Linked DNA regions of Homo sapiens. The protein of the gene in region 1 interacts with the protein of each later gene in a pairwise test. Each region holds a gene or a part of one and is shown in the gene's direction. Other genes may lie near its edges.

The links.
Region 2: the proteins of FAM168A (region 1) and ALKBH4 interact in binary tests that used the Homo sapiens proteins (3 or more experiments, as listed by UniProt).
Region 3: the proteins of FAM168A (region 1) and C1orf94 interact in binary tests that used the Homo sapiens proteins (3 or more experiments, as listed by UniProt).
Region 4: the proteins of FAM168A (region 1) and MEIS2 interact in binary tests that used the Homo sapiens proteins (3 or more experiments, as listed by UniProt).

Annotation. Positions count from the first base shown.
Region 1 is NC_000011.10:73,399,196-73,406,169, reverse strand, and holds the end of FAM168A (protein FAM168A), read left to right. Parts: 3' UTR 1-5,683; downstream 5,684-6,974.
Region 2 is NC_000007.14:102,455,530-102,462,503, reverse strand, and holds the end of ALKBH4 (alpha-ketoglutarate-dependent dioxygenase alkB homolog 4), read left to right. Parts: intron 1-2,702; coding exon 2,703-2,900; intron 2,901-4,522; coding exon 4,523-5,110; 3' UTR 5,111-6,266; downstream 6,267-6,974. UniProt on the Homo sapiens protein: Dioxygenase that mediates demethylation of actin monomethylated at 'Lys-84' (K84me1), thereby acting as a regulator of actomyosin-processes.
Region 3 is NC_000001.11:34,193,294-34,201,141, forward strand, and holds part of C1orf94 (uncharacterized protein C1orf94), read left to right. Parts: intron 1-3,931; coding exon 3,932-4,620; intron 4,621-7,478; coding exon 7,479-7,739; intron 7,740-7,848.
Region 4 is NC_000015.10:37,034,203-37,042,050, reverse strand, and holds part of MEIS2 (homeobox protein Meis2), read left to right. Parts: intron 1-5,091; coding exon 5,092-5,237; intron 5,238-7,848. UniProt on the Homo sapiens protein: Involved in transcriptional regulation. Binds to HOX or PBX proteins to form dimers, or to a DNA-bound dimer of PBX and HOX proteins and thought to have a role in stabilization of the homeoprotein-DNA complex.

The DNA of each region.
Region 1 (6,974 bases):
ACCCCAGGCTGAGAACCTGGGGAAAAAAGTCTTTAGAATTTGGGGGAGGGTGGGGGGAGGGAGGGCATTGTGGGGAAGGAGAGGGAAGAAGGGAGGAGCGGTGCTTGCCTCATGGCTTTGGTTTGAAAGGTCTCTGGCCAAAGCATCTGGCCCTGGACCTTCTGATTTGCACAGTGATGTTAACTGACCTGGCACTTCCTCAAAAGGTGATTTTGTCCTTAGACCTGCCAAGCGGCTGCAGGGTGGTAGGATCCCAGCATCCCGAGGCCTTGGAAGGCCGGATGCCCTGTGTCATCCAGACTTCAGCCTCTGAGCTGTCATGGACCCACTCTGATGAGGAGCTTCCTCCTGATTGGAGTGGGAACCTAGGGCATTTCTCTCCCTTTTCTTTTGCCCTTCCCAGTGCCAGGACTCACCTGTCTGACCATAGAGCTTGCAGGCAGGCCAAGCTCTTGGTTACCTGTGCCATTCATGGCCCAAGTGAAGGAACCACATTCCAGGTGGGTGCTGGCAGCTCTGAAGGTGAGGATAGTGAAGGAAAAGCAATAGCAATAAACATTTCATAGACTCATGGAACTGAAGGGACCTTAGCAATCATCTCATCCATTTCCCTATTTGGCAGATGAGGAAACTGAGGCCCAGAGAAGCGGAAAGGACTTCCCTAGACCTTACAGTAAATTAGCATTAAATGCAGCCTTCCTACCTAGTGGGCACCTTGCTTACAAAAATTTACCTAGGGACGGATTGGCTTGGTTTTGTAAAAATTAAGTCGGCAGCGCCCATACCTGGTGAGTCTGGAATGGTCTCTGGGCTCCTGTTTCTGCTCTTTTCCTCCACGGACTCCAAAGGCGGGGGTTGAAGACTGGGCAGAGGCTACATGGGGGCGGATGGCAGGAACAGAAATTGCAAATGAAGAAATAGCATTTGGAAATTCTGTGAAGACATCTGGAACTTCCGTCCTGTACCTGACTCCACCTCCAGGAGAAGGAGCAGGTGGACTGGCCGAAAAGGAGAGGCCATGCTTTTAGGACAGTAGCCCCTCATCCCGAGAGGAGAGGAAGAGGAGGAAGACAGTGGGAGTCATCAGGAGAGGAGAATGAGGATGAGGCCCAGGAGACAGGCTCATCTGGGAGAAGAGGGACCCCTGGGACGAGGAGGTCCCTGCTAGTCTCAGCCAGGAGCCTGGATTGCCCAGCAGCAGCCTCCGGCACCCAGCGCTTGGCTGGGCCAGCAGCCCCTCTGGGGGTGGGGCACGAACATTTTATTGTAAAAAATGGGATCATTGACAACATTTGGGACTTTAAAAAACTGCTTTCATTTAAAATTCATGCAAACTTGGACATATCCTTACCCCAACCTCCCATGTCTCCCTAAGGGAGGGAAAAATCAGGAAACCCTTGGGTTGGAAGGAGCTCAGAAGCTGTCTAGCCATTCCCAGGAGGGTAAAGCCCATCAGCCTCCTTGGCCTAGAGCCAGGAGTTTGGGGGCCCACCTTCCTGGGCTTCCAAGGAACTTTAGGACCAGTAAGAAAAAATTCAGCTGTTCTAAATTATCTGTTCTGGGTGCTGATGAGGTTTCACTTTAAAACAATAGAAAGTTTTCCAGTGTTAATTCACTTTTTGCAAATACCTCCTTCCACCCTCTTTGGTTTTGTAAAGGTGGGTGAAGGTTGTTCTAGATTATGTCATACGTGTTTGAAAAATGCCAAAATAATAATAATGATAATAATAATAGAAACCTTTGGATTTGTCAGGTGCATCACAGAGGTCAAAGCACTTCACGGCCTTTCATGTACTCGCCCTGAGAGGGACAGGGTTAGAGTTATTACAGTCAATTGACAAATGAGGAAACAGGTTATGGAAGGGAACAGGCCCACAGTGAGCAGCATGCTGGTATCCGCTAGGCTTCCCAGAACCCTGCTGCCTCCATGTGGGCTGGGGTGGAACCACAGAGAGGAGAAAGGAAGAAGAGGAGACCTAGGAATGACCTTGTAACTTTTGTTCTTTCAACACCAGTAAGTAAAACTAACAGCTGGACCTCACAGTTCACAGAACAGTTGAACATAAATTATCTGGTTTAACCCGATGAAATAGAGGTTATTTCTCCTATTTGATCCATAAGGAAATCAAGGCTTGGAAAAGTCAAGTGACTTGCTAATAAGTGACAGAGCCACTCGAATCCCAGGCTGTCTGCTGTCTCGTTCCCCTCCATCTGATCCCCACACAGGCTCACGTACTGAAGCATCTGTGCTCTGTGCCCTATCTTAGCACCTACTATGTAATTCAAGAGCAAAGGGGGGCCCCAAGGTGAAAATAAGGCACTGAAAGGCTGTGGTCTGGAAGAGCCCAGGTCCAGCACCCCTTTTTCAGTATGAGCCCCAGTTCAGCCGGCCTCAGCCTCTTGCTGTGATGGAGATCCACAAGCCTAGCCAAGCTTGGGGAGTCACTGCAAAAGGACTGAGCCCAGGAGAGCGGGGACAGTCATGTGCCTCTGGTAGGATGGGCACAGTTACTGGTAAGGTCACAGAGATCTAGTGGGAGGTACCATAGGTAGATACCTCCAAAGATTCTAGATGGCACGGTGGTCAAGCTAGACAAAAAGTCAGAGCTGGAAGGGCCGTCTCATTGAAGGCAGGCAAGCAAGAGAGGACAAGGGATGTAGCCGCCTGACAGTGAGCTACAGCACTGGCCCCAGGATGCAAACCCCTCTCTCCTCCTCATGCCACTGCCTCTCCCCAAGTGCAACACCTATGGCCAGGATCAGGGGTACAGATGGCTCGTTACCAGCCAACCCTTTTGAATTCTTCTACTTCTACCTGACCCCCTCTCCTCACTGGCCTGGGGTCAAGAAGTTTGAGTCTGGGAGCTGGATTGCCTGCAAATAGTGAAAGCCTGAAACATAATGGTTTGCCATGTTTTGAAAAAAAATGCATATTTAATTTCTTCCTCATGAGATAGGACAGTTGCTGTTCTTTCTTACCTGGCAATGACCCTAAAATGTATATCCTCTTTCCTGAATATTTAGCAGAGACACACACACCTGTCCAGAGCGTTTTTGGTATGCAAAGTACTTTGACATTGGTTGCCAAAGTCCTCCATTTTATAGATGAAAAAACTAAGGCTCAGGAGGCTTGAGACTTGCTAAAAGGTCACACAGCTTGGAAGTGATTCTTCAAATCCTCTGCTCTTTCTGCTGCCACCTGCTGGGTCTCTTGGCAAGCATGGAGGGAGGGGCTAACTGTACTTTATAGAGCTGGGAAGCCCAGTCTCTGAGCTGAGCAGATTTGTATGAACTGCTTTGGGCCAGGACCTGTAATGAGCCCTGGGGAGGGACCCAGAGGCACATCTAACTGGCAGCACAAGGAGGATGAGAATTTGCAACTAAAGGCCTCACTTGGACAAAACACTTTGGGGTCACAATGCCCAGGACCGAAGACATGTTCAAGGACAGCACGAGGCATCTTTCTATTGGGAGACCCATGTCCTTGGTAAGCCTGCACACCTGGCTTCCTAATCCCTGAGAGCCTGCCCACTGTCCAGATCCAGTGAGTTGGTACAAAACGTACAGACTGAAGTCCCTGGGCTTGCTTTTCCCATGGGTGAGGACCAGAACCAGACTCTGAGCATCCTTACCCCTGGCCACCCGAATTGTTCCAAGTTTGAGGTACCCCGTTCCCAGAGATCTGGGGGTCCTTCTTTGGAGGGCTTGCTTTGTTCTGATGGCCTTCAGAAAGGAATCACATGAAGTATAAAAGGACAGGCCCCTTGGTCACCAAGTTTTGGCTCCTCATACAGATAGGACTCATCCAGGTTCCCAGCGAGGCACTGACTAAGCGAGGCTCAGAGCTTCCATATCAAATTCCTCAGCTTTGTTCTGTGCCCAGAGGGGGTGGGCCCCATTCTGGGCCCTGTGAACTTTGTCTTATATATCACCATCTGTATCAGAATTCCTCCTCAATTGCAGTTAAGTGAAAATACGTGGAAGTCTGCTTTTCCATCCTGTATTCTCCCACATCACTACTGGCTGTGCGGCCCCCGCTGCTTGCCAAGCTTGGGAATCCAGAGAGGGGCAGTAGTAGAGTGGGCCAGTTGGGACCCACCCGCAGAGCTGAAGAAACACGCCAGACTAACTGATGGGATTCCACACCGGAGCCTCTGAGCGCACAGGCAGGCATGCCAAGGGGGCTGCAGGGTTTGTCCTTTACTTATCTGCCCCTTTCCTAGAAAACTCCTCGTTTCTGAAATTAGGCATTATATGGTTCCAGGACCCAGCCTTCAAAATTCCTGGCAGGCCAGCTTCAACATTCCATGGCCAGCCCTGCCTAAGCCAGACTTGGGTCCCAGTCCCTCAGTCTCTCCAGTGGATATCTTCTGTGGTGCATGCTGTTGAGTCCAACCCAAAGGCCAACCGAGGCACACAGGAGTTGGGACTGGCTGCCACAAAGCTAGAAAGGGACAAAACAGCACTTGCTTCCCTATGGCCACATGGATAGTCCCTGGATATCCTTGCTGTGGTAGAGGTCCTCTACCCATTCCAGCCACTGATAGCAGGGGGATTTTCCTTCCTAAGGAGAACAGATGTAACAGCTTTGCAAAGTACCGGCCCATAGGAATCAAATGGGTGAGATCAGCTTTGGGCCTGACCCCAGCAAGACCAGCATCTCCAGACCCCAGCCTTTCTCCTCAGGCCTAAGAGAGTCAGGGAAAGAGAGGAGACTGTCCCAGAGACCTTCTCCTCGGGTCAGCCAGATAGTCTGGATCTATGGTGTGACTCAAGCTCCTCCTTACCCAGGGGGGGTAAGGCCAGGCCTCTAGCTACTTGGAGTTGTCTGTAATAATCTTGAAAGGCCCAAGGGCCTGTCCCCATCCTGACTTAAAGGCATCTGCTTCCCTGTTTCATATCACATGACAGAGAAACCTGTTCTCATGGCATGTAACATCCCTGTGAAGAGAGCGTTGTATATGATTTTGTATTTTTTAATTCATTTTAATCTACAGGTTGGAATCTAATTTTTAAATTTTATTGGAACTCACATTTTAAAAAGAAATAAAATTTAAAATAATAATAATAATAATAATAATAATAATAAACCTTTGACCAGTGTCTTCCAAGTAGTTTGATCAAAGAATTTATAGGTGTTTTCAAAACACAGTCCGGAGTGTAAAGATTGGAAAGCCCCATGGCCTTGCCTGTGTGTATGAAGTGTAAATCTGGTTTTGTTTTGTTGTTTTGGATTCTTTTGGGTTTTTGTTTTGTTTTGAAGATCAGACAGTGATCACTCTGAAAGATTGAAGCCAAGAATTTGTAACTATGGTATTTACTGTAAGCTGTAGAACACTCAATAACTATTAAAAAAAAAAATTCCCCCCCAAAAAAAAGTCTTAGGTGACTAGACTGAGTGGTTCTTGGGGAGGGAGGCACAGAGGACTGTCCTGGGCCAGTGAGTCCCTTGGGCGTCTCCCCAAGTTGATGCTAAATTTGTTCTCAGTAGTCAAGAAAAACCTATGGTACATCTTACAGCTGATCTGACAGGGGTCTGCCCTAAGGGTCTCACAGCTGCTGGGGAGCTTTAAGTGGCAACTTCAGCACCCACCCTAAGTGTGTGATGTGGGAGCACAGTGAGGCCATTCAGAGTTGAAATCCATTGAGCCATCCGCGCAATAAAGCTGACATCTATTGTGTGGCTGGTGCCTGCTGCTCATGTTTGTTAAGGCATTCGGTCCTCACAGCACACGTGAGGTGAGCCCTGTTGTTAGCACCATCTTAGATGGGGAAGCTGAGGAGGGTAAGTACCTTGGCCGATGGTACAGAGCTGGTGAGAGGCAGAGTTAGAACTCACATTTGGCACTTGTTCTGGCTCCATAGCCCACGCACCAAGCCCCATGTTCTGCCCATCTCAGAGCAAGCAAGGCCCGAGTTTGTTTTGTTTTGTTTTTGTTTGTTTTTGTTTTTGAGACAGTCTCTCACCCAGCTGGAGTGCAGTGGCGCAATCTCAGCTCACTGCAACCTCCACCTCCTGGGCTCAAGTGATCCTCCCACCTTAGCCTCCTGAGTAGCTGGGACTACAGGCGCACACCACCACTCCCAGCTAATTTTTGTATTTTTTTGTAGAGGCGGGCTTTCACCATGTTGCCCAAGCTGGTCTTGAACTCTTGGGCTCAAGCGATCTGCCTGCTTCAGCCTCCCAAAGTGCTGGGATTACAAGTGTGAGCCACTGAACCCAGCGCCCTGAGCTTTCTTAAAAGATGGATTTGTCAGATGGGAAACCAAGGGGCACTTGGTGGTTTGTGGTTACAGAAAAAGGACAGCTGAGGGAGGCTCTGGCGCCTTCATCCAAAGCAGTCCCATCAAGTGCTATCAGTTTTGCCTCCTAAACATCATCTGAATCTCTTATCTCCCCTCTGGGTGAAGCCACTGCCCTAGCCCAGGCCCAGGCTTCTCTTACTGGGTTATCTGTCCACCATTCCTTCCCAGGGCCGGGCCCCTACAGTTCATGCTCCACATCCCCATAGCTATACCTCCAAGAACTCAGCCTCCTCACCTGGAAAGGAAACAGGCCAAAAGAGGCCAAGTAGCTTGGCTCACACTGCAGCTGAAATGAAAACTTTTAGGCCTCCTTACTCTCTAATGCCTCTCACCAAATCTCACCGTGTGCCTCCACCCAGCCTCCCTTCCTGTCCTTGATCCAATATGAAACCCACCCCCAGTGTCCGAGGGGGCACCTCTGGCCACAGGCATTGTTGGGGCTGAGTCACCATAGTCAGTTTCTCCGGTGCAGGAAGGGATTTTCTCCCAGAGGGAGGCTCAGCTCCAGGTCACAGTGGCAGAGCTGAGGGCCAGGAGCAGGAGGGGAGGTGGAGACTTGGGTCCCAGCCCCTACCATTCTGGCCCATAGGGAAGAGGGGTGGAGCACAGAGGTCAAGCTCAGAACTCTTCCCCTCAGTGGTCAGCCCAGAACCCCACCCTGTCCTCCA
Region 2 (6,974 bases), on another chromosome or scaffold:
CCCAGTTACTTGGGAGGCTGAGGTGGGAGGATTGCCTGAGCCCAGGAGGTCAAGGCTGCAGTGAGCTGTGAGCGCCACTACACTCCAGCCTGAGTGACAGAGCGAGACCCTGCCTCAAACAAAAAAAAAGAAAAGAAAAAAATTGCGGAAAGTCTGACCCGTTCCAGTGGCCATGTGGAGGTGACATCTTCCCAACCCGATGGCTATGGAACAAGGAGAGTGAGGTATCCAGGATCTCAGGGCACTGGGGCAGTTCCTCACTGGCTTTCCAGCCTCCACCCTTCATATCTGCCCCTCCCCCCTCCAGATCTTTCTAAAATTCACATTTGACCTCGTCACTCCTTTAAAACCCTTCAAGAGCGCTCCATGGCCTTTCGGACAAGTCCAGCCTGCTCAGCCGACACACGGGGGACTCCCAGTTTTAATGTTTCCCGTGGGAGGGCCCCAGGAGCAGGAGGAGATAGTGCCAATCTCAGGAGGGGTCTGAGCTGGAGTCGGTGGCTGGAAGTAAAGCATTGGAAGGGGCTGAGGTCCCTGGAGGGAAGAACAGAGAAAGACAGCGGCCCACAGTGAGTGGCAGCCCAGGGTGTGAGGAGCCTGGAGATGGAAGAGGAAGAGGAGACAGGCCACAGAGCCCAGGGCTGAGTTCTGGTGGCCTCCGAAGTCCTCACTGGGTGACTCCGGCCAGAACCTCCACACCTCCTGCCCATGATAGTTATGGTACCTTCCTCTTGGGGCTGTCCTGGGGATGAAACTAGATAATCCATGTAAAATGTTCAGTGCCACAGATGCAAATACTGGCTATTTCATTGGCGAAACTCTTTTTTAAAAATTTACTATTGGCTGGGCATGGTGGTTCACGCCTGTAATCCCAGCACTTTGGGAGGCCAAGGCGGGAGGATCACAAGGTCAGGAGTTCAAGACCATCCTGGTCAACATGGTGAAACCTCGTCTCTACTAAAATACAAGAAAAAAATTAGCTGGGCATGGTGGCGCGCACCTGTAGTCCCAGCTACTCGGGAGGTTGAGGCAGGAGAATCGCTTGAACCCAGGAGGTAGAGGTTGCAGTGAGCCGAGATCGTGCCACTGCACTCCAGTTCTGGTGACAGAGCGAGACTCCATCTCAAACAAACAAACAAACAAACAAAAAGTATTATTATTATTTTCAAGATGGGGTCTCACTGTGTCACCCAGGCTGGTGTCCACTAGCACGATCTTGGCTCACTGCAATCTCCACCTCCCGGGTTCAAGGGATTCTCCTGCCTCAGCCACCTGAGTAGCTGGGATTACAGGCATGCACCACGACGCCCGGCTAGTTTTTGTATTTTTAATAGAGACGGGGTTTTGCCATGTTGGCCAGGCTGGTCTTGAACTCCTGACCCCAGGTGATCAGTCCACCTTGGCCTCCCAAAGTGTTGGGATTACAGGTGTGAGCCACCGTGCCTGGCCTGGTTTCTAGACTTTCTTTAGCATGGGGGAACCCTTAGAGTACCGCCAGGCCTCGGGGTTGGTGGCAGAGCAGAGAGGGACATGGGGTGGGAGTTGAGTGACAGCCCAGGGTATGAGGATTGAGGGGTGATGCTGGGTCTGGAAAGGTGCCCTGAGGACAAGAGTGAGGAGAAGGGAGGTTGGGACACTGAGGAGCTCAACTGAACGCTCAGCTCTGTAGGGAAGTTGGCTGCCCTCCTAGGTGACCCTCACGCTGGTGATAGGCACGGGCCAACCCCTGGGACACCGGGGTGGCATCAGCAAAGACCTAAAGAGATTAGGGTGCACAGATTCAAGGTAGTCAGGCAGTTTGGGGCCTCCTGGAAGCAGCTGAGGAGATGGGAGTGCAGGAGGTGCTGTCCAGCCTCGGGCTGGTTCCTTAACTTTGCTGAGCCTCCTTTGTAAAATGGAGAAGGAAAAACATGTTGTACAAACCCTTCTCTTTTACAGGGGAGGAAAGTGAGAAAGGAAACCAATCAAATTCGTGTTAGCTCAAGAGGGCTGCGGGCCTTCCCCGGTCAGCCTGGGGCAGAGGCTCTGCCTGCACCTCCCCCTAGACTCCAGCTGCCTTCCACAGTGTCCTGAGGGGAGGAATGAGCCATCAGAGGGTCTCCTGAGGGCACACAAGTGCCAGGGGCTGCCATGGCTCCAGGATGTGTCTTTCCTTTTTTTTTTTTCTTTTTTTTTTTTTGAGACAGGGTCTTGCTTTGTTGTCCAGGCTGGAGTGCAGTAGCGCGACCATGGCTCACTGTAGCCTCAACCTCCTGGGCTCAAATGATCCTCCCGCCTCAGCCTCCTGAGTAGCTGAAATGACAAGTGCGCTCTGCCACACCCGGCTAATTTTTATTTAAACTTTTTTTTTTTTTTTGAGTCTCACTCTGTCGCCCAGGCTGGAGTGCAGTGGTGCCATCTTGGCTCACTGCAACCTCTGCCTTCTGGGTTTAAGCAATTCTCCAGCTTCAGCCTCCTGAGTAGCTGGGATTACAGGCACCTGCCACCATGCCTGGCTAATTTTTGTATTTTTAGTAGAGATGGGGTTTCACCATGTTGGCCAGGCTGGTCTTGAACTCCTGACCTCAGGTGATCCACCCACCTCGGCCTCCCAAAGTGCTGGAATTACAGGCGTGAGCCACCGCACCTGGCCTGTTTTAACTTTTCGTAGGGACCGGGTCTCGCTGTGTTGCCCAGCCTGTGGACTTGTGTTTCTTTTGCAGAAAACATACCGTTTCATTTACTGCTCCGACACCGGCTGGGCCGTGGGCACAGAGGAGTCTGACTTTGAGGGCTGGGCCTTCCCCTTCCCAGGAGTGATGCTGATCGAGGACTTTGTGACCCGGGAGGAAGAAGCCGAGTTGGTGCGGCTCATGGACCGTGACCCCTGGAAGCTCTCCCAGTCTGGACGGAGGAAGCAGGTAGACCGGCCCTGAGCTCATGGGGGTTGCTGGGCTGCGCTGAGGAGACAGCCCTACTGCTGGGGGCCATCCCCCTCCTTGCAGCCACACCCCTCAAACCTCCAGGGTTGGTAGTGGGCGAGTTCCCCAGACCTTGGGGCTGTGGGCAGCCAGACTCGCTGCAGGACGTGTGTCCGATGGGCAGAGGTGCACCTGGGCACCCCATCTCCCTGTGATATGCGCTCCTGGGCTCTCTGCCCCTCTGTAGCTGGCTTGGTGGTGGTGAAGGCACCCCATTCTCCCAAGCTGCAGGCGCCCCCACCTCCCATTGTCACCATCCGTGTCCTGTCTCCTCACACGCATTCCCACCTTCCCCCTCCCCGGGCCCGCCGCTCCCTCCAACTCCTTCCCCACCTGTGTCCAAACATCCCCGGGTGCCCCCTCTCCCTTCATTGTAGGTTTTTTTTTTTTTTTTTTTTGAGACAGAGTCTCGCTCTGCCACCCAGGCTGGAGTACAGTGGCATGACCTGAACTCACTGCAACCTCTGCTTCCCGGGTTCAAGCCATTCTTCTGGCTCAGCCTCCCAAGTAGCTGGGACTACAGGTGCCCACCACCATGCCCAGCTAATTCTTGTACTGTTAGTGGAGACGGGGTTTCACCATGTTGACCAGGCTGGTCTCGAACTCCTGACAAGTGATCCGCCCGCCTCAGCCTCCCAAAGTGCTGGGATTACAGGCGTGAGCCACCGCGCCCAGCCCCATTCTTTTGTGACATCCTGTTGGATGTTGGTACATTTCATTTCCTCATTCATCTGTCGATGGACATTGGCGTTGTTGTCACTTTTTGGCTGTTGTGAACATTTGTGTACAGGTTTTTTTTTTTTTTTTGAGACAGGGTCTCGCTCTGTCGCCCAGACTGGAGTGCAATATGTGATATTGGCTCACCGCAGCCTTGACCCCCCAGGCTCTAGCGATCCTCCTACCTCAGCCTCCTGAGTAGCTGAAACTAAGGCATGTGCCACCAAGCCCAGATAATTATTATTATTATTATTTTGAGACAGGGTGTCTCATTCTGTCTCCCAAGCTGGAGTACGGTGGCTCAGTCTCCACTCACCGCAGCCTCAACCTCCTGAGCTCCAACAGTCCTCTCACCTCAGCCTCCTAAGTAGCTGGAACTAAGGCCTGTGCCACCACATCTGTCTAATTTTTGTTTTGTTACTAGAGACAGAGTTTTGCTGTGTTGCCCAGGCTGGTCTGGAACTCCTGGGCTCAAACGATCCACCTGCCTGGGCCTCCCAAAGTGTTAGGATGATAGGCGTGAGCCACCATGCCCAGCCTAATTTTTAAATTTCTTGTAGAGAGGAGGTCTCACTTTGTTGCCCAGACTGGTCTCAAACTCCTGGCCTCAAGAGCTCCCTCCGCCTCAGCCTTCCAAAGCGCTGGGATTACAGGCATGCACCACCATGCCCGGCCATTTGCTGTCACTTCTGTCTCCTTGAGTCTGCCTCCTCCTGCTTCACCTCCATGAAGCCAGGGGGCTTTTGCTTGCCTGGGTCACTATGACTGAATTCTTCCCACCTAGTCTGTGGTAGACATCTTCGTAAACTCAGACACCTCATGTCCTCTTTGTCTTCATCCTTCAGGACTATGGCCCCAAAGTCAACTTTCGGAAACAGAAGCTAAAGACCGAGGGCTTCTGCGGCCTCCCCAGCTTCAGCCGGGAGGTGGTGCGGAGGATGGGCCTCTACCCGGGGCTGGAGGGCTTCCGGCCCGTCGAGCAGTGCAACCTGGACTACTGCCCCGAGCGGGGCTCTGCCATTGACCCCCACCTGGACGACGCCTGGCTGTGGGGGGAGCGGCTGGTCAGCCTCAACCTCCTGTCCCCCACCGTGCTGTCCATGTGTCGGGAGGCGCCCGGGAGCCTGCTCCTCTGCTCGGCCCCGTCGGCTGCCCCGGAGGCCTTGGTGGACAGCGTGATAGCACCCAGCCGGTCGGTGCTATGCCAGGAGGTGGAGGTGGCCATCCCCTTACCCGCCCGCTCCCTGCTGGTCCTCACCGGGGCGGCACGGCACCAGTGGAAGCATGCCATCCACCGCAGACACATCGAGGCCCGCCGCGTCTGCGTCACTTTCCGGGAGCTGTCGGCTGAGTTTGGCCCTGGAGGGAGGCAGCAAGAGCTGGGCCAGGAACTGCTGCGGATCGCCCTCTCCTTCCAGGGAAGACCCGTGTGAACCGCCTCCTTGGCTCCAGACTTGACTGATCCCGGGATTGAAATGAGGAGCACAGAACAGGGCCTCCTGCAACTCACGGGGTTTCAAGAGAAGATGGCTGACCCCTGATGCTGTGAGCAGTGTGAGCCCTGCCCAGGAGCAGGTTTTGATGGGAACGTACCTCCAGGCAGCCCCCTTCCACCTGGACCGTGGCCACACTTTTTTGGTTATTTAGTTTGTCACAGTCTTGGGGACATGGGATCATTTGAGCTTAAAAAATACTGGGGGCCGGGCACAGTGGCTCACACCTGTAATCCTAACACTTTGGGAGGCTGAGGTGGGCGGATCACTTGATGCCAGGAGTTCGAGACCAGCCTGGCCAACACGGTGAAAACCCGTCTCTACAAAAACTACAAAAATTAGCCGGGTGTGGTGACTCACAGCCGTAATCCCAGCTACTCGGGAGGCTAAGGTGGGAGAATTGCTTGAACCTGGGAGGCGGAGGTTGCAGTGAGCCAAGATCACGCCACTGCACTCCAGCCTCGGTGACAGAGCAAGACTGTTTTGAAAAAAAAAAAAAATGGGAACATTTTAAATGATTTTCACCTTTATTATGCATCTATTTTCATGGGGTTTCCCGATATCTCACTGTCCAGTCCCTTCATTTGGGGAATGTGTTGGATTAGGGAACAGGGTTGAAGATTTGAAGTTTAGACTAAAGAGCTGGGAACAGCTTCAGAGTCAGGCTCAGCCTGACTCATGCTTGACACCCCCACGCCCAGGGAGGGTTGGGGGATGTGAGGAGGGCAGGGAAATCTGAGAGCCTCCTTCCAGCCCCATAACGCTGTTAACAAGTAGGAAAAATTAAAGCTCCCGGCCAGGCGCGGTGACTCACACCTGTAATCCGAGTACTTTGCGGGGCTCAGGTGGGAGGATTGCTTGAGGCCAGCCTGGGCAACATAGTGAGACCCCCATCTCTACAAAAAATACAAACATTAGCTGGGCGTCTGGGCATGGTGGCACACACCTGTAGTCCCAGCTACTCGAAAGGCTGAGGCGGGAGGATGGCTTTACCACCATGTCAAGGCTGCAGTGAGCTCATGATCATACCACTGCACTTAACTTGGCAACAGAGCAAGACCCTGTCCCTAAAATAAATAAAAGGAAAACAAAAAAAGCTCCTCACCTCCCACTACACCAGGAGGCTATTCCTTTGTGATGGGGCTGTGGTGGGGGCGCTTACCTGGATGGGGGAGCTGCTCTGCTGTTCCTGTGGCTGGGTGCGGGGCAGGCTGTGGAGGCTGAGGGGGTGGCCTGGACCCATGTGGCCAGCCCTCTCTCCCACCACTATGGGACAAAATGTTCAGTTCCTCACCACCTGCTGGGAACTAAATCCAGGGGAACAGGAAAGGTTCGGGGCCAGCACCACTCTTTACAGTCACCCCCAGAACCCTCTGGGAGCTGTCAGATGGCAGAGCCGTGCACTGTCTGTAAAGCAGCATCCCAGCCACTGAGCTCCCAGGAGGGCTGAAGAGCCCCGCATAGACCCAGGGGAAAGGCTGATGGGTTTCTAGTGGCTGTGAGAGCCCAGCCGCTAGGTGGGAGGACGTGGCTCCCAGGCCACCTTAACTTCGGCTCCCTGGTCAACTCACTTGGAGCAAGAGCACAGAGCCCGGCTTCCTCCCAGTATCACGGCCCCAACGGGCCCCTCACTGCGCATCCAGATGTGAGTCAGGTCGGAGCTCCAGCTGATCCTCACTGCACTGGAGCAGATAAGCCAGCCCAGGGGTCCACTCTCGAGGGGGCCAGTGCAGGGTCTCTGCCCCTGACAGGCTGGGCTGGCCCCTGCAGGATGCTCCAACATCTGGAGAACGATGCACATAGA
Region 3 (7,848 bases), on another chromosome or scaffold:
CCAGACTCTCTCCTGTTCAACATTTCTATTTGTAAATTGGCGGAAGACTCAGAAGATGTGCTCATCAGACATGCAGCTGACATGGAGCTGTCAGGGACAGCTAATGCCACGGATGACAGGCTCAAGATTCACTGTGATGATCCTCCACAGGCTGGAGTGATGGGACGAAACCAGCAATATTCCTGAGTGCATTCAGATTGGGGAACAACGCCTGGCCAGGGATCAGGGAGACCTTGCTGGATAACAATCTCCTGAAAGGAAGCCCAGGCTGGGGGTGGGGAGGAATTAGTGGAGGCAGCTGGACCCAGCCAAGTCCCTACATCAGCTTCTTCCCTCTGTGGCAAGGCCCTTAGCCTTTCAGGGTCATTCTTCCCATATGTAAAGTGGGGATGATCCAGGCTACTGCCCAGGCATATGGGTAGGATTAAATATGAACACATATATGGATGACTGGCTTCCTGTGTGGCCCATAGTAGGCTCACGGCAAATGCAAGGGAAATATTAATTGTAGAGGCTGGCAAGAGAAGAATGGATATCCTGCGGCAACCTTTCAAGGGCACGTAGCAGGGCTCACAGCTGGGGCGGGCCCATATGTTCTTGACACACCAATGCCAGCTTTCTAAGAGCCTCATTGATTCCTGTGGTATGTAGAGGAGAATGGCCTGGAGGGGTTGGTTCTGGAGGCCATATCCCCTGAAACCCACCGTGAGTTCAGAATGGAGACAAGGAGGTGGTTGCAGCTGGGGGGGACATGAGTGTTTCCTTAAACACCACAAAGGCTGCAGTGTGGGAATGAATGGGGAAGATGCTTTCTTCATTGTTCTGGATGCCTGTGAGGAAAAGTTGTGCAGAGGCACATATGGGTGCATCGTAACTAAGATCTAAACATTGATAATTACATTATAATAATTATGCTGTGAGCATTTCTCGAGGGCCCACTATGCACCCAGCTTGTGCTAAGTGTTTTGTACAACTTATAGAATGCTCACAGTCTGACCTTGACAGATGAGGAATACAAGGTGTAGAAGGCAGCTCTTGAGAGGCAGAGCAGGGATTCACACTCAGCCCCTGGTAGTTCCTGTCTGCTAGCCTGGCTTCAGGTTGGGGAGGGCAGGAGTGACCTCCCAGGTGCTGAGAAGGGACCATCATGGGGTGATTTTTGGTACAGGGATCTCAGGGCCCTGTGGGGCTTCTAGAAGCTACTTTGAGTATGTGCGTGTAATATTTGTATAAAATAAAGCAGAAAGCAAATACAGACAAATAGAATGACTAGTGTGTGATGACCCTATGTAACCATTACCTGGCTTTAGCAATGATTAACATATGGCCAATCTTGTTTCATCTATTACTCCCTCTCTCTTCTTTTCCCTCCTCCTGCTGGATTAATTTTAAAGGCATTCCCCGGCATAATTTTCTCTGTAAATAGTATGTATCGCTAAGAGATAAGGACTCTTTGTTGTTGTTAGGCATAACCACAATACCATTATCACAATTTTTAAAAATTGACCTAATTGTACTGTGTCTTTCTAATTCAGTGAAGCTATTGGTGTATGGCTTGCTTTGCAAAGTATTTGGGGAGGGGAGGCAAAAACTAGTCTGACTCCTGTGACTTGAGACTCACCTGTTCCTTTTGAGGTGGATGAAGAGGAAGAAGAGGAGGGGGATCTAAAACTTGAGACCGCAGATTGGCAGCCCCTTTATTCTGATTGTTCTCAGGGGACTCAGCCGGGAAAGTGAGGCCTATTTATAGGCCTAAGTCTAGACATGGGAAGGAGGCAAAGGAAGGGAATAGGTGACAAGTCAGGGAAAGGGGACAGAAGAGAGAGTGGAGGGAAAGAGAAAATAACAGCAAGTGATCTTGCTGCACACATAGCTCCAGTGGCCCTTCAGGAGCTGGCCGGGACCAGCCCACACTAGCTAATGCTCACAGCTGACACTGACTGAATGTTTCCTGTGCACAGGGCACTGTGCTGAGCTCACGTACCAGTGACCTCGCCCAATGCTCCCAACCATCCCATGAGGCAGGTGATGTTAGGTGTCACACCCATTTTACAGGGGAGGACACTGAGGTTCCAGGGTCCGACATGAAAAGAGCAGTGGTGCCTGGATTCAAACCCAGGTCTGTTTGTCTGGAGTCTGCTTTTTGCAGGCTTTACTCTCTGCCTCCAAGCCTGGTGATGTTCCATGTGGGGGTAGAGAGGCTCATGTTCAAGAAGTACGGCTGTCTTGGCTGCTGGACTATTGGTACATTCCCATGTCTTTAGTACATAGCTCTTCCCCAGGGTCCCCAAGCACCCTGGGCTACCAAGTCTTTGCCTCAGGACTCATCAGGACCCAGCAACTAAAGGTTTCCTGTCTGGCACAATAGGAAGCCTCTAAGACTGTAGACTGTGTCCATTCTGATTGACTGTTAAATGCAGTGACTACTCCCCTGGGTCTGTGTATGGTGACATGTGAATTGTGTGCCTGCCTGTTTCTGTTCGTGGGTGTGTGTGTGTGTGTGTGTGTGTGTGTGTGCGTTTGTACACAATAAGCATTACCAGGAAGGCATGGACCCTGCTGGAAGCATTCCATGGTCACCGTTTTGGAGACTCATCATGCCCTCTGAGAGGCTGGCCAGAGCTGGAACCTGTGCTGGACCTCCAGACTGCAAAGCCTAAGCCACAGCAGCTGAGCTCCCCTATGGGACTCCTTGATTTTTTCCCTTGGGTCTTCATCATCTTCTCCTTCAGCGCTCCCATGATAGAAGGCTGAGTAGTTTCCAGAATGCTTGGTGTGGGCCACCTCATCCACTTCTCATAGGAGCCCCTTGAGTAGGCACAGCAGATGGTTCTAGGCTGGTGGCTCTTGTCCTCCTGGGTGCCTGCTTGCCAAGAGTGCTGGTGAGGTGGGCGGGGCCACCAGCCAGGCCAGTAGGATTGCAATCCTCTCTACACCTGGAGAGAAGTGGCAACGAGGAGCCTAAAAGCCAGGAGACCATCAGGTGCTATCAGACAGGTGCAGACCAGCAAGTGTGCAGCGGAGGACCCAGGGTCCAAGGGGCAGGTTGAGGCCATTATTTAGGTTCAGGAAGATCCTGGTGAATCAGTGCAGGGATCAGTGCAGGGATCTCCCCACTGCTGGTGCTGTACATGAAGGGAGGCCCAGTCCAGAGGCTGTGATCGGGTCAGAGGCCATGCCAGAGTGAACATGAGTATCCAAGAGGCTACCGTATGAGATCCAGGGGCGGGGACCAACTAAGGCTGACAGTGGTGTAAACATGAGAGCTGACCTTTGAATCGCCCTTACTCTATGCCAGACACCATTCAAAGTGCTTTGCACCTCTATGATACTCCTAGTAATGAGAGGAGGAGACAGAATACCAAGATGCTGAACAACCTGCCCAGGGTCACACCGATGGGAGTTGACTGGATCAGGGTGTAAGCTTAGGCTGTCCACTCCACCATTCTGCAGTGAGGTGATGGGGGCTGCGCTACTCTCCTGGGGGCTTCCCAGGGCTCAGCCCCAGCACCCTAGACTCTGCACTTAGAGCTGTTGGCTTGCTCCTGACCCCTTTGCTGCTGGGCAAAATTCCCCAGTGAACCCCTTCTCTGGTCTTTCATTGCTTCAGGTTCTGAGCATGAAGAACAAGGAGGAATGGACTAGAATTAAGGCTCAGTGAGGCTGTGACTTGCCCCAGCTCACTCAGCAAGGTTGTTGGGAGAGGATCCAGGTTTCCCCATTTTTCAAAACCATGCTCTCAGTGCTGCATCCTACCGCTGTGGTATAGGACCCTCTGGGGGTCCAGTGTGTCTGCTGGGTTATCTTGCCTGGAAGTGTGTTTTTGTCATGTTATGCATCCATCTCCCTTTTCTGGGGCCTATGTCCTTCTGCAAAGCCACGCCTTGGTGAGCTGGCACTAACACCGTCTGTCTCTCTGACCCATTTCCAGAGCTCTGGAGCTCAGCAGTGGCAAAGATGAGATCTCCTTGTTGGTGGAACAGGAGTTCCTAAGCCTCACCAAAGAGCACTCGATCCTGGTCGAAGAGAGTTCTGGGGAGCTGGAGGTACCCGGCAGCTCTCCCGAGGGGACCAGAGAGCTGGCTCCCTGCATTCTTGCCCCTCCTCTAGTGGCAGGCAGTAATGAGCGCCCCAGAGCCTCCATCATTGTCGGAGACAAGCTTCTGAAGCAGAAGGTGGCCATGCCCGTTATCAGCAGCAGGCAGGACTGTGATTCTGCCACTTCTACTGTCACAGACATTCTGTGTGCCGCCGAGGTCAAGAGCAGCAAGGGGACAGAGGACAGGGGCCGCATCCTAGGTGACTCCAACTTGCAAGTCAGCAAGCTTCTGTCCCAGTTCCCACTGAAGTCCACTGAGACATCCAAGGTCCCTGACAACAAGAATGTGCTGGACAAGACAAGGGTCACCAAGGACTTCCTACAGGACAACCTGTTCAGTGGCCCTGGACCCAAGGAGCCCACAGGGCTGAGCCCATTTCTGCTGCTGCCTCCCCGACCTCCTCCTGCACGTCCTGACAAGCTCCCTGAGCTCCCTGCTCAGAAGAGGCAGCTCCCAGTGTTTGCCAAGATCTGTTCCAAGCCCAAGGCTGACCCTGCTGTGGAGAGGCACCACTTGATGGGTGAGTGGGGTTGGAACTGGGGTAGAGTGGGCCTGCAAGGAGGAGGTCCTTCCCAGGAAGCCAATCAGGGCTGCAGCATGTACATAAAGCATCTTCATGCAAAGCAAGACAAAGCAGCCTCTCTGGTGGGCACAGCCCCGAGGGACGGGCTGTTTCCAGCCCCCACAGGCTTATTTTGCTGGGTTCCCCTGTGCAGGGCACAGCTTTTGTAAGCAAACCCAGAGGCCCTGATCTCAACATACTTTGAGAAGAGAAATAGGCGCCATGTAGTAATTGGCTTAACTTTGGAATCAAACGGGTGTCCAGAGTACATTGAAGGAAGTGTTTACCCTAGCTGGGTTCAGGGTGAAACTACAGCATGGAGATGCCAAGATGTATAGAAGAGAAATTTGATTGGTAGCTGGGGTCATTTGGCATCTATCTCATGGAGGTACCTTGAGGACATGAGGCCTGGTCCTCCCTCTCTGGGGTATTGGGTAGATGCGTAAATTATCCAGGCATAGTGCAGACTGTTGACTCTGGGATCTGTTTCCTGGGACTTACTTTATTGAGGAGCTCACATTCTTCCCAGGAAAGCCAGCCACCTCCCAAGCTTCTCCTACTTTATGCCCAGGATTCTGTGTGTTGTTCTGATCTAACCAGTCAGACTATATGGTTCCAAGAAGGTAGGCTGATGGCCATGGCCATTGCCTAGAGTCAGCAGTCACTAAGAGAGTGATCATACTCATGTTAGCCAAAAGAACAATTTCCTCTGGGCTATGAGCATGGATGGATAACTGAGAGACACCCGTATTGGGAGGGTCCAAATTAATCTACCTGAGAAAATAAGAGCAAAGTCATCCTGAACATTCTGTGTCCTGGAGCATTGCAGGAAGGCCAAGGAATCAGAGCTGTGGATAGCAAGCTGAACTCTGGGTCCTGGACAGGCTTCTAGGAGCCAGAGGGCTTTAGGATGGGGAGCTGTAGGAGAGAGACGGTTGAGCTCTTCCCAGAGAGGAGACCTTCCTCCTACCTCTTCTCCAGAAGGGACCCATAGATATTTCCCTGTTGGATGGGGCTGCTGGACTGGAGGCAGTTCTGGTCCCACCCACCCCACCCACCATTGGTGCATGTCTGTGTGTACGAATGTGTGAGCAAAAGTGTGCCAAAAGGAGTTTTGAAGGTTTTAGTGTATTTGTTAGAGAAAATGCAAGAGTGGTGTGTCTAAGCATGTCTGTGTACACATTTGTGCATATGTCTGTCATGTATGTACTTGTGTATGTGTAACTAAGTCAAAGGAACAACAGATAGGAGTGTGTCTATGTCTGTGTGCCCAGACCTGGGACGAGGGAGCTTCGTAGATGTTTAAGGCATCTGTAAATATGAGTGGGAAGCTGCAGGTGTGTGTGTCTCTGGGGAAAGGGCTATTATCAGTGGGTACTGTTATTTCAGCTCACAGGCTAGGGGCTGAATTCGGCAACCGGAGGAACTCCTGGAAAAGACTCTAGGGATGTTTTGCTAAAAATGTTGTTTCCTTCTAAATTGGCTCAGGCTAGAGCAGCTCTTTCCTTTGCTGGAATAGTGCTAGGAAGACAGCCTTAGCCCCGAAGCTCAGCCCCCAAGCCGCTGGGCTAGGGGGCCAAAAGCTGGTGGGATCTGGTCTATTATTATCAACAGGTAACACTGAGGCACAGGTCCTTTCTGGCTGCATCCAGACAGATCCCGGTGCCTGCTATTGGGCAGCACAGTGCACAGCCATCTGGTGGGTGGCCAGGTTTCCCACCACTGCTGTGGAGGATCCTGTGATGGTCCCCAAAGTATGTCTGCATTGGGAGAATAAATGCTCAGTCTCTTTAGTGAGAAACCTGTGTCTGCCACCAATCTTGTCCCTGCTCCACACTCTAGCCATATCCAGTGACTCACAATGTCTCCTTGATGCTTCCAGGCCTTTGCCCACAGTTATCCCTGCCTGCCATGCCTTCCTCCCCAATACCCCTGGATGTAAGGCCTCGCTGCAACCCTACTTCCTTCTGGAAGGAACCTTCTCAGACAGAAGCAGCCTCAGCCACCCTGTTCTCCATTTCTTCCCTCTGCCACCTCATGGTGTTCATCTACCTTATCCTGGGGCTATTTCTGGGCATGTCTCTCTTTTTTTCTTGTTATGAGCTCCTGCAGGGCACAGTCTAGCTCTGACTCACAACTGTGTCCCCAGCACTCAGGTCAAGGCCTGGCACTGACAAGTGAGCTGAATCACCTGTGAGTAATAAAACAAAAGTAGAATCCAGAATGAGAGACCAAAGTGTGTGGCTCAGACCACATGTTCTGTAAGAATGTGTGACTCCTTCACTAAGCCATGTGCTCACTGAAGGCAGGAACTGTGTCCACAACATCCTTGTTTTCGCAGCCTGGCACTATGGATGGTTGGAGAGAAGGAATAGTGGAAGGAATGAGGAAAAGTAAGGAAGGAGAGGAAAGAAAAGAAAGGTAATTCGAATAAAGGAATGATGGAAGGAAGGATGAAGGGGTGGATGGATGGAAGGAAGGCAGGAAGATAAAGATGGATAGTCAGACAAATGGATGGACAGATGGATGGATGGATAAGTAGACGGATAGAAGGAAGAAAGGCAAAGATGATGGACAGATGGGTGGATGAATGAACAGATGGATGGATTGATGGATGCATGAGATCGGGGGGCAGGGGCCAGGGAGGGTTTCAGGGAGAGATTGGGATTGTATTTGGCTGAAAGAGAGTCCCCCAAAGTGGTCCAAGCCTCAGGTGTGTGCTGCAGAGGATTCATCATTTAGTCCACAAAAAGGTGCTTCCAGCATCCAGCACTTGGCCTTCCAGAGGCATTGACTCAGTTTCTTTCCTGCTACAGAATGGAGCCCTGGCACCAAGGAGCCAAAAAAGGGTCAAGGGAGCCTCTTTCTCAGCCAGTGGCCCCAGAGCCAGAAGGACGCCTGTGGTGAGGAGGGTTGCTGTGACGCAGTGGGCACCGCATCACTGACCCTGCCGCCCAAGAAACCTACATGTCCAGCCGAGAAGAACTTGCTCTATGAGTTCCTTGGGGCCACCAAGAACCCAAGCGGGCAGCCGAGACTTCGAAACAAAGTGGAAGTGGATGGGCCGGAGCTGAAATGTGAGCTGACCTACCCAGGGAGGGATTGGAGGGGAGGGGGTTGCAGTGACCCTCACAGGCTTCAGGGTGGCTCTGTCACCAAGTGGCTGTCTTATCTACTGCCTTTCTA
Region 4 (7,848 bases), on another chromosome or scaffold:
ATCTGCGGTGCTCACCACCATGCCTGGCTAATTTTTTGTAGAGAGAGGGTCTCACTATGTTGCCCAGGTTGGTCTCAAACTCCCAAGCTCTAGCAATCCTCCCAAACAGGCCTCTCAAAGTGCTGGGATTACAGGCATGAGCCACCATGCCAAGCCTGCCTAGGTAGTTTTTATGACCATGAATTTTATGAATGAGAATTTTCTTTTCTTTTTTTTAAGCTTTTTTTAAATCTTTTTGTAATCCCAGGTGCACATATATTTTGTATGAACATATTTAACTATTAAGCCTGGTCTAGAACTTAGAATTTAGAATCAATTCTAGAACTAGAATTTAGAATCAATCATCTGAGGATCCTCTCATAGTGTGCCGACGTCCTTCCTTGATTCAGTGGATACACAACTATGGATATGGATATTTGCCTACACCCAGATGCCGATGGTATCCCAGGATTTAGCTTCCTGCAGTTAGACACTCTCATTATTGCTCTTTTAAGTAGGTGTATGCTGGAGCTACCTACCAGAGCAATGTTGTGTTCTGAGCATAATCTGCTCAGCTAAGGAAAGCATGCGTGACTTCCTTGAGAGCATAGGTGTAAATCCAGCTAGAGATGCTCTCAAAATGCTTCAGAGTCTTAAGACAGAAGGAGGACCCAGGGATTAGATTCAGGCCTTCAGACAGCAACAAAGGAGGACAGCAAACCAAGGGGATGTTCTCTGTGCTTTATGGCAGTGGTTCTCGAGCTAGAGTGGGCATCAGACCCACCTGCAGGGATGATTAACAGGGCCCCACACCTAGAGTTTCAGATTCAGTAGGTCTCAGCTAAGACTGAGAATTTGCATTTCTCACAATTTTTTAGCTAGTGCCAATGCACAGAGCCAATGTTCTATAGCTTCTTTCTTTCTGTTTAACCCTTACTACCAGAAGACTAGGATGGGGATTTAGAACACCATGGCTTTCCCACAGTGAATAAGGCCCAGGCCAGATTGCAGTTACTCACTGTGGCTGCTAACCTCATTCATGGGAGTAAAGTAGGATTTTAATTACCTACCTGTTCCTGAGGCTGCATCTCATTTCAATTTAGATAATCTAGTCAGTGGCTTCCCAAAGCCAGTTAAAGCATCAGTGATACTCTGATTGCATAAGCAAACCCAAGGAATTGTTGAAATTACAAATTCCTTTTTCCCGCCCTAGGACATTTTGAATCAGTAGGTCTGGGATGAGGCCTGGGGACCTGTGTTTTTAACAATCTCCTCTGATCATTTAATCCACTTCCGATTTATCTGTCCACAGGCCTTGAGTCTTCCTTTCCATGGTCACACACAATATGTTTCACTAATGCACATTTATTTTGAGTATGTTTACCCAAAACTTAGACTATGCCCTTGGTCAAGGGATTAGCAACCTTTCAAAAGAAGCATGCCCAGTATTTCTTTATATAGCCTTTCATCATCAGAGGTGGCAATGCTGATGGAATGGCCTTTGGTTTAGCTCTGCAAAAAAGCCCTGTGGGTACTCAGCTCTTCAAAGAAGCTCTGTTCCTGGCATGTTTAGAAGTTACTGTGTGCACATACGTAACCCACTCAGCTGTTCCAGAGGAACAAGACCTTCACCCTTTAGGTATATAGTGTGTGCAGTTGCCCCACCGTGGGGGTTGGCAAAAAGTGGGGAGGGCCCTTGCATAAGCTCATTGATAAGTTCAGTCATTTACTCACCCAACCAACAATCACTGGTTATGTGTTCTGAGTCAGGCATGGAGGTATCTTCTCATAATCAAAAGATAAGCAAGAAACAGTTAACTGCCCGCAAGGATTCCACAATTTTGAATCCTAACTTCAGATGCTATCTCCTTACCTCATTTGGCACGTGCATTTGTGCTGGTATACATACCTTTTTCAGCACATAAACTCATTTGGCACATGTGCCAAGGATTGCCAACTATCTTATACACACAACCACACACACACACACACACATACACAGCCTTAAAACAAAAAAAAAAAAACACCAATATCCATGTTGAGTTACTAACTCTAGCATCAGCTGCAAAATTTTATTTTAGGTTGCAGTTCACGCAGTTGTCTTTCAAAAATTTTCGTTATGCTGTTGTTAGTTCTCTGTGCTGGATTTGGTCCACAGTCCATTGGAGGAAAAAACAATTGTATTTATTGTTGTGTTTGGGAGAGGAAAATTCCTCTTTTTATAGAGGTATAAACATATATTAGTTTAAAATTTTGTGTCTAGTATGTAGTCATTAATACAAAACTAGACACATTATTGTTTATAATTATTTGTTACACTGGATCTAAATTCAAATATTTTACATTTATATACAACGGGTTGCTTTATATTAAAATTTATGTGATGCTCCTGTCTTCTCCAGTTTAAGTCAGTCATCAAAGGATGCTCAATCTAGCTATATTTTTTCTTGCACTAAATATAGTGAATCATAAAGTTCGAAGGTGTTACCAGCCCTCTTTGCTTTTAAGAAAGAAAAGATGCACTGTGGAAATGCTGTCTCTCATTTTTAAGGTCATTGATTGGGTTAAAAAGGCAAATGACTTTTTTCATTGAACTTCCTTCAATTAAGCCATTAACCTTTTAAAATAAGTGCATTCAAAAATCTATCAAAAAAAGCTAAATGAGATTTTAACAAAATCCTGACAATTTCAGCTTAAACATATACACAGAAACCATATGTGCTTAGAAAGAAATATATACACACAGGCATTGTTTACAGAGTGTGTTTTTATATTTGGAAGACACTGAAGGAAGAGTTATTCCATACATACATTATCTGAAATGTACATTCAGATAGCCTACATAGATTTCATATTACACACAAAGATATCTTTATCCATGGTAGGTAGACAGACAGACTGACTGACTTCAAACTTGCACTTGCAGTGTGGATTTTTTTTCCTCATCTCCGGGTACTGCTTTTCAAAATTGCCTCAGGCTACAGAACAGCACCTCAGATCCCCAAGGCCCACTGCCTGGCTCCTAATAGCCACTCTCCATCTGTGTCACATGAACAGCTGATGAGATCGCTCCAGTGTCTGTATTTTGGAGAGCACATCCACCCAGGTTAAAATGCTAGGGTTGCCAAGGAGCAGTCAGAAGCCATTAGTGTGGGTGAGAATTTGCCTTGCAGCAGTTCCTTGGCATGGTGGAAAGCGTGTGCACGTGTCCCTGCACGAGCTTGGGTGTGCGTGTATGTGTGTGTGTCTCCTTGTCCAGGCGACACTCCGGTGTACATGGGTGTGCAGGGAGGGTGACAGATGAAAACTAGACTGTATATTATCCAGTATTGAAAGAGTCAAATGCCTTTTGTTTCACTGTATACTGATTCGGTCTTTGACTATATGGGGTCCCTTTTTTCTTATCATAACAGAAGGCAAAGAAAAAGAGAACAGCAACTTCGGGGTCATGCTCTAGTGTTTGGGCAGATGGAAGGGAGCTGCTTTGCCTTGGGGCAGGGTGGTTGTAATGAAGTGGCCTGTCAGTCTGTAAATAGTGAGGGTCATCTCTTCCATGTGATGGAGGGTATCGCATTGCAGTGAAAATGGAAATGTCAATAAAATTAATCTGCCAGCTCTTTGCTGTGGCTTTTCTGCTTCTCTAGTCAAAGAAAGTTGAGGGTTTTTTGGCAAGAAAGGAAAAGAACAGGTACAGGGAAGCCCACAGAGCAGACCCAGAAGTTAGAAGGCAAGTGGCCCAGTGGGCAGGATGGCTGTGCTGTAGCATAGTCCGAGAGGAGGGAGCAGGTCTGGGAATGAGCTGATGGATCTCTAGTATTCCTCAGAAAGCTACAGAGCATCCAGCTCAGGCTACATTGAGCACAGAGTTTATTGTTTTAGGCTTTCTTGGACAAGGTTTTTACTTAGCATGGGATTTATGGCATTTACTGCTAATGAATGTCTATTCTTAAATTACAAAAACCCCCATCTCAGTGCAATTCCCAGATGTCCTTCCAGGACCCTGGCTTCTTAAACACCAGCAGGGAGCATAAACTCTCCACTTCTCTGTTTTCCTCTTTCGTGTGGCTCCAGGCTAATGATGTGCAAGGAAAACACAGCCATCTATAAAGCCCCAGTGCTGTCCCCGTATTCTTCATTTATTTTGCATTTGATTATGCCACAAGTCGGATCTTGTTTCTTTCCTTTTTTTAAAGTTATTAGTTCAAATATTAATGTAGGGATATGGCATATATTGCTGCTCTTGATTGATGCCTTCCCAAAAACAGGAAGACGTGCTCGTATGAATTTTAAGAAAGTAGGGGTCCTGCAATGCCTTGCCAGAAGAGTTTTTCAGATACATAATTTAGATGCCCTCCAGGCAGGCTTTCAAGGCATTTTTGCCAGAGGGCAAGAAAAAATAACTATGACTGTTAAAAGTAAATGATTTTTGCTAATGCACAATTAATGCCAGAGAAAAGCACAGAAGAGAAAGATGTTGATAGAAACTTCTGATTAAGTGAGCACCCTACCTTGATGTGTATCTTTTTTTTTTTCATGATAATGATCAGTGGTGCAGAGAGCTAAAAGTTTTCATGTCATGCAAATGCCGAGTGCAGGGTCATATGAGAAGTGTGCGAATGTGCGTGCTTAGGAGGTGACAGCTCTAGGAGGGGCTGAGCAGGCAGTGCGTTATGTGCAACGAACAGTGACACAGTTACTGTCACCTATGCAGGCAGCCTAGAATATATAGACTACAGAACATTTAACTTGATTACCCTACAGTATGTGTTCACTCTGGGCATGGGGATGCGTTTCCACTGAATAGGTTTTCTGATGGCGGTTTTCCCACATTGGATTCCATAATTGACAAAGAGCTACTGCACTGTGTCAAGTGCACAGTTATAATTGAATTAATGATATGGGCAAGTGTGAGACACACAAAATTAACATTTGAAGAGGCCTGGTTTAATTTTGTCTTTTACATATTTGTGTCTCCAATTATACTTTAATGAAAGAGAATATACTCGCTTAATGGATTTCTTTCAACAAGCTTAGCTGAGCTCATCATTAGCTGCACTTGTTGTTGGCACCTTGCGATGTTTTCTCTAATGTATTTTTATTTCTTTCTACTAGGGGATGGTTTAGACAACAGTGTAGCTTCACCTGGTACAGGTGACGATGATGATCCGGATAAGGACAAAAAACGCCAGAAGAAAAGAGGCATTTTCCCCAAAGTAGCAACAAATATCATGAGAGCATGGCTCTTCCAGCATCTCACAGTAAGTCAAGATGAAAGAGAAAAAAAAAATAGTTTTTGTTGTTTTGCTAGCAAGTTATACGGTCTCATACTGATTTTTTTTTAAACTAAGGTGCCTATTTTCTTATTCTTGAAATCTGATGACTAACAGACTAGTTAAAGTTTTTTTTTTCATCAACTATTACCATCCAAAGAGCACCCTCTAGAAAGTAGCAGGTTTTTGTTTTAAGAAGCTGGGAATGGACTTTATTTAAAATGATCTAAGACCCTAAACAGCATATATAAGTAAATTTGTTATTTATGCTAAAAGTATGAGAGCAACTTCGGATACTGCAACAGCAACCAAGGGAAATGGCTGTAAGGAGCTCACAAATCCATAAACGTTGCTGATTACACTGTTAACGAAAGCTGTCTCCTCTAGGAGGCCAAAAAAAAAAAAAAAAAAGCACCTTGCCACATGCATGTCCAAGCTCACAATATCAGGTGCAGCTTTAATTGCTGAAGCAGTTTACAAATATGTCATGTATTTATATGACAAATTCAGAAGGGTTATAGGTGCTGTAATGCCTTTGTTTGCAAGGTGGACATTAAAGATTCTTTTTTTAGCTGCTCAAGTCCATTATCTTAAAAGCTAACCATGTTCACTTCTGGAAACGGTTTTACTATGTGAGACATTTTAAAAGTAACAATTTATCTTTATCTTCCTGTTTGCAATCCTTGTATGTGTGGATACATACTGTTGACTCTAAGACTCTTATGACAAAAAAATTACAATATATTTTTACAGATAAACTAGGCATGCTTATATTTTACTGTTCATTTGGAAATTCTGGGAAACCAGTAAAAATTTCAGAGGTTGCTTCTTGCTATAATATTGTTTTCAGGCCATTCTATTTAGGCTAATACTTAAAAATAGAGTAGCACATTGAAAGCTGAAGGTCTTCTTTGATTATCCAACTTGTGTGTTGCCATGCTGAATGACATTAGTTACAGTGTCATGGGTCCAGGACAAGGTTCCACTTTTATTTATGGTGGTGGCTGCTGATGGGCTCTTCTTGCAGAGCTACAAAGGGCAAGGGGTGGAGCAGTGGTGGGGAGGGAAAAGTGATAGATTCACATTCCTAAATCGGCCATTTTGATGTAAGGACATTAGTAGCAAACTAAGGTGTATCGATCTGGCCTGTGGTGTCAGGATTAGCTGGGAGAACCAATGAGGCAGCTGTGGTAGTGGTTATTCTTGCCTTGCAGCTATGGCCATTTCAAAGGTCAGGGCCCTGCACTGACTCGGCTCAGAGGAATTAGACAGAACATGCGGTCTCTGGACTGATTACTTAACCAAAGACAAAATAATGAGTCCTAAGCAAATACTGACTAATTGAAAGGGCTGTAAATCCATTACATATTGGTCAGGGATAATCAGGAGTATTTAATCACTTTTATCTATTCAGGAGCACTGAAGCTGCAACAGCAAAGCCCTGAACCTTGCCATGTGGTTATTATTCTCATCATTATCAAAATTACTTCACAGCTGTTCTTTGCTACATCACCTCAGCTGGAGATTTACTAACCTGTAAAATGTTTTTAATTTGGAAGTCGAGTGACTGTGAGGGGAGGGGTTTCTCATTTTTAAATGAAGGTTTGTTTGGTTAGAGTAGCAACTAAGAACGGCAGTGTAGCTGCGGATGACAGGCCAGCTGCCTTCTCCTGACCAGCTCACCTGTTTGGTTCCCTCCCTCTGTCCTCCTCCATGCTTGGTCTTTCTTGGTCGAAAATAAACACTTCAACAGCTGCTTTCCAAGCAAACAGCTACGTGTGTTTTCAACCTCTCTGTCATCAAAACCAATGTCAGAGAACAGTAGAACCTTAGAGAATGCAGCTGCTCTGTTTATAGATGAGGAAACAGAGACCCAAAAAGGGAAGTTACTAGCTGAAGGTCAAGCTGAGACAAGGGCCCGAGACTTCCAAGTCCCCAACTCTGTGATTTTTCCACATTACAATGACTTTGCCAAAATGACGATCACCTTTAACAGTTGCATAGAAATCTCACAGTCTCCACCATCAATACGCTCAGAGTCACAAGGGAGAAATACGGAGAAGCCAAGTGCTGTTTTCTTTTCTTGTTTTGAAAGCTCCGTGTTACCCAATATAGAAAGCCTTACCACCTGTATTTTGTGAGTTGAATCTCACATGGGAGTGTCAGGAGCCCTTAATACCTTATCTCCCACCTCCCTGCCCAGGGCGGCACCCAGCATGCACCATGGCCACCGATTAGAGTTGTGGGTGGCTGGTGATTTCTGGGCACTTGTTGTACCTCTGCTGTGCTACGAACTAACAGTAAGAGCTTGTAGTCACCTCAAGAATGCTTTCATCTAGTTGAATGTATGCAAGGCTTTGTGCAGAATTCTCTGTCCGACTCAAATTTTTAATGACTGCCTGTCCTCCAGGTTGGGAGAGAGGACTCAAATAGCCTAAGCTGGGGGAGTTGGGAAGTCTGCATTCATGCTCTGTGATCCTCTGTACTGGCTGAACCTCAGTTAAGTCCATTAAGTTCCCTGGACTTTCTGTTTCCCCATTTTTCAAATGAGAGGGACACGTTGCAGGATGGATAAGCTCCTTTCCCATGCTCCTAGGTT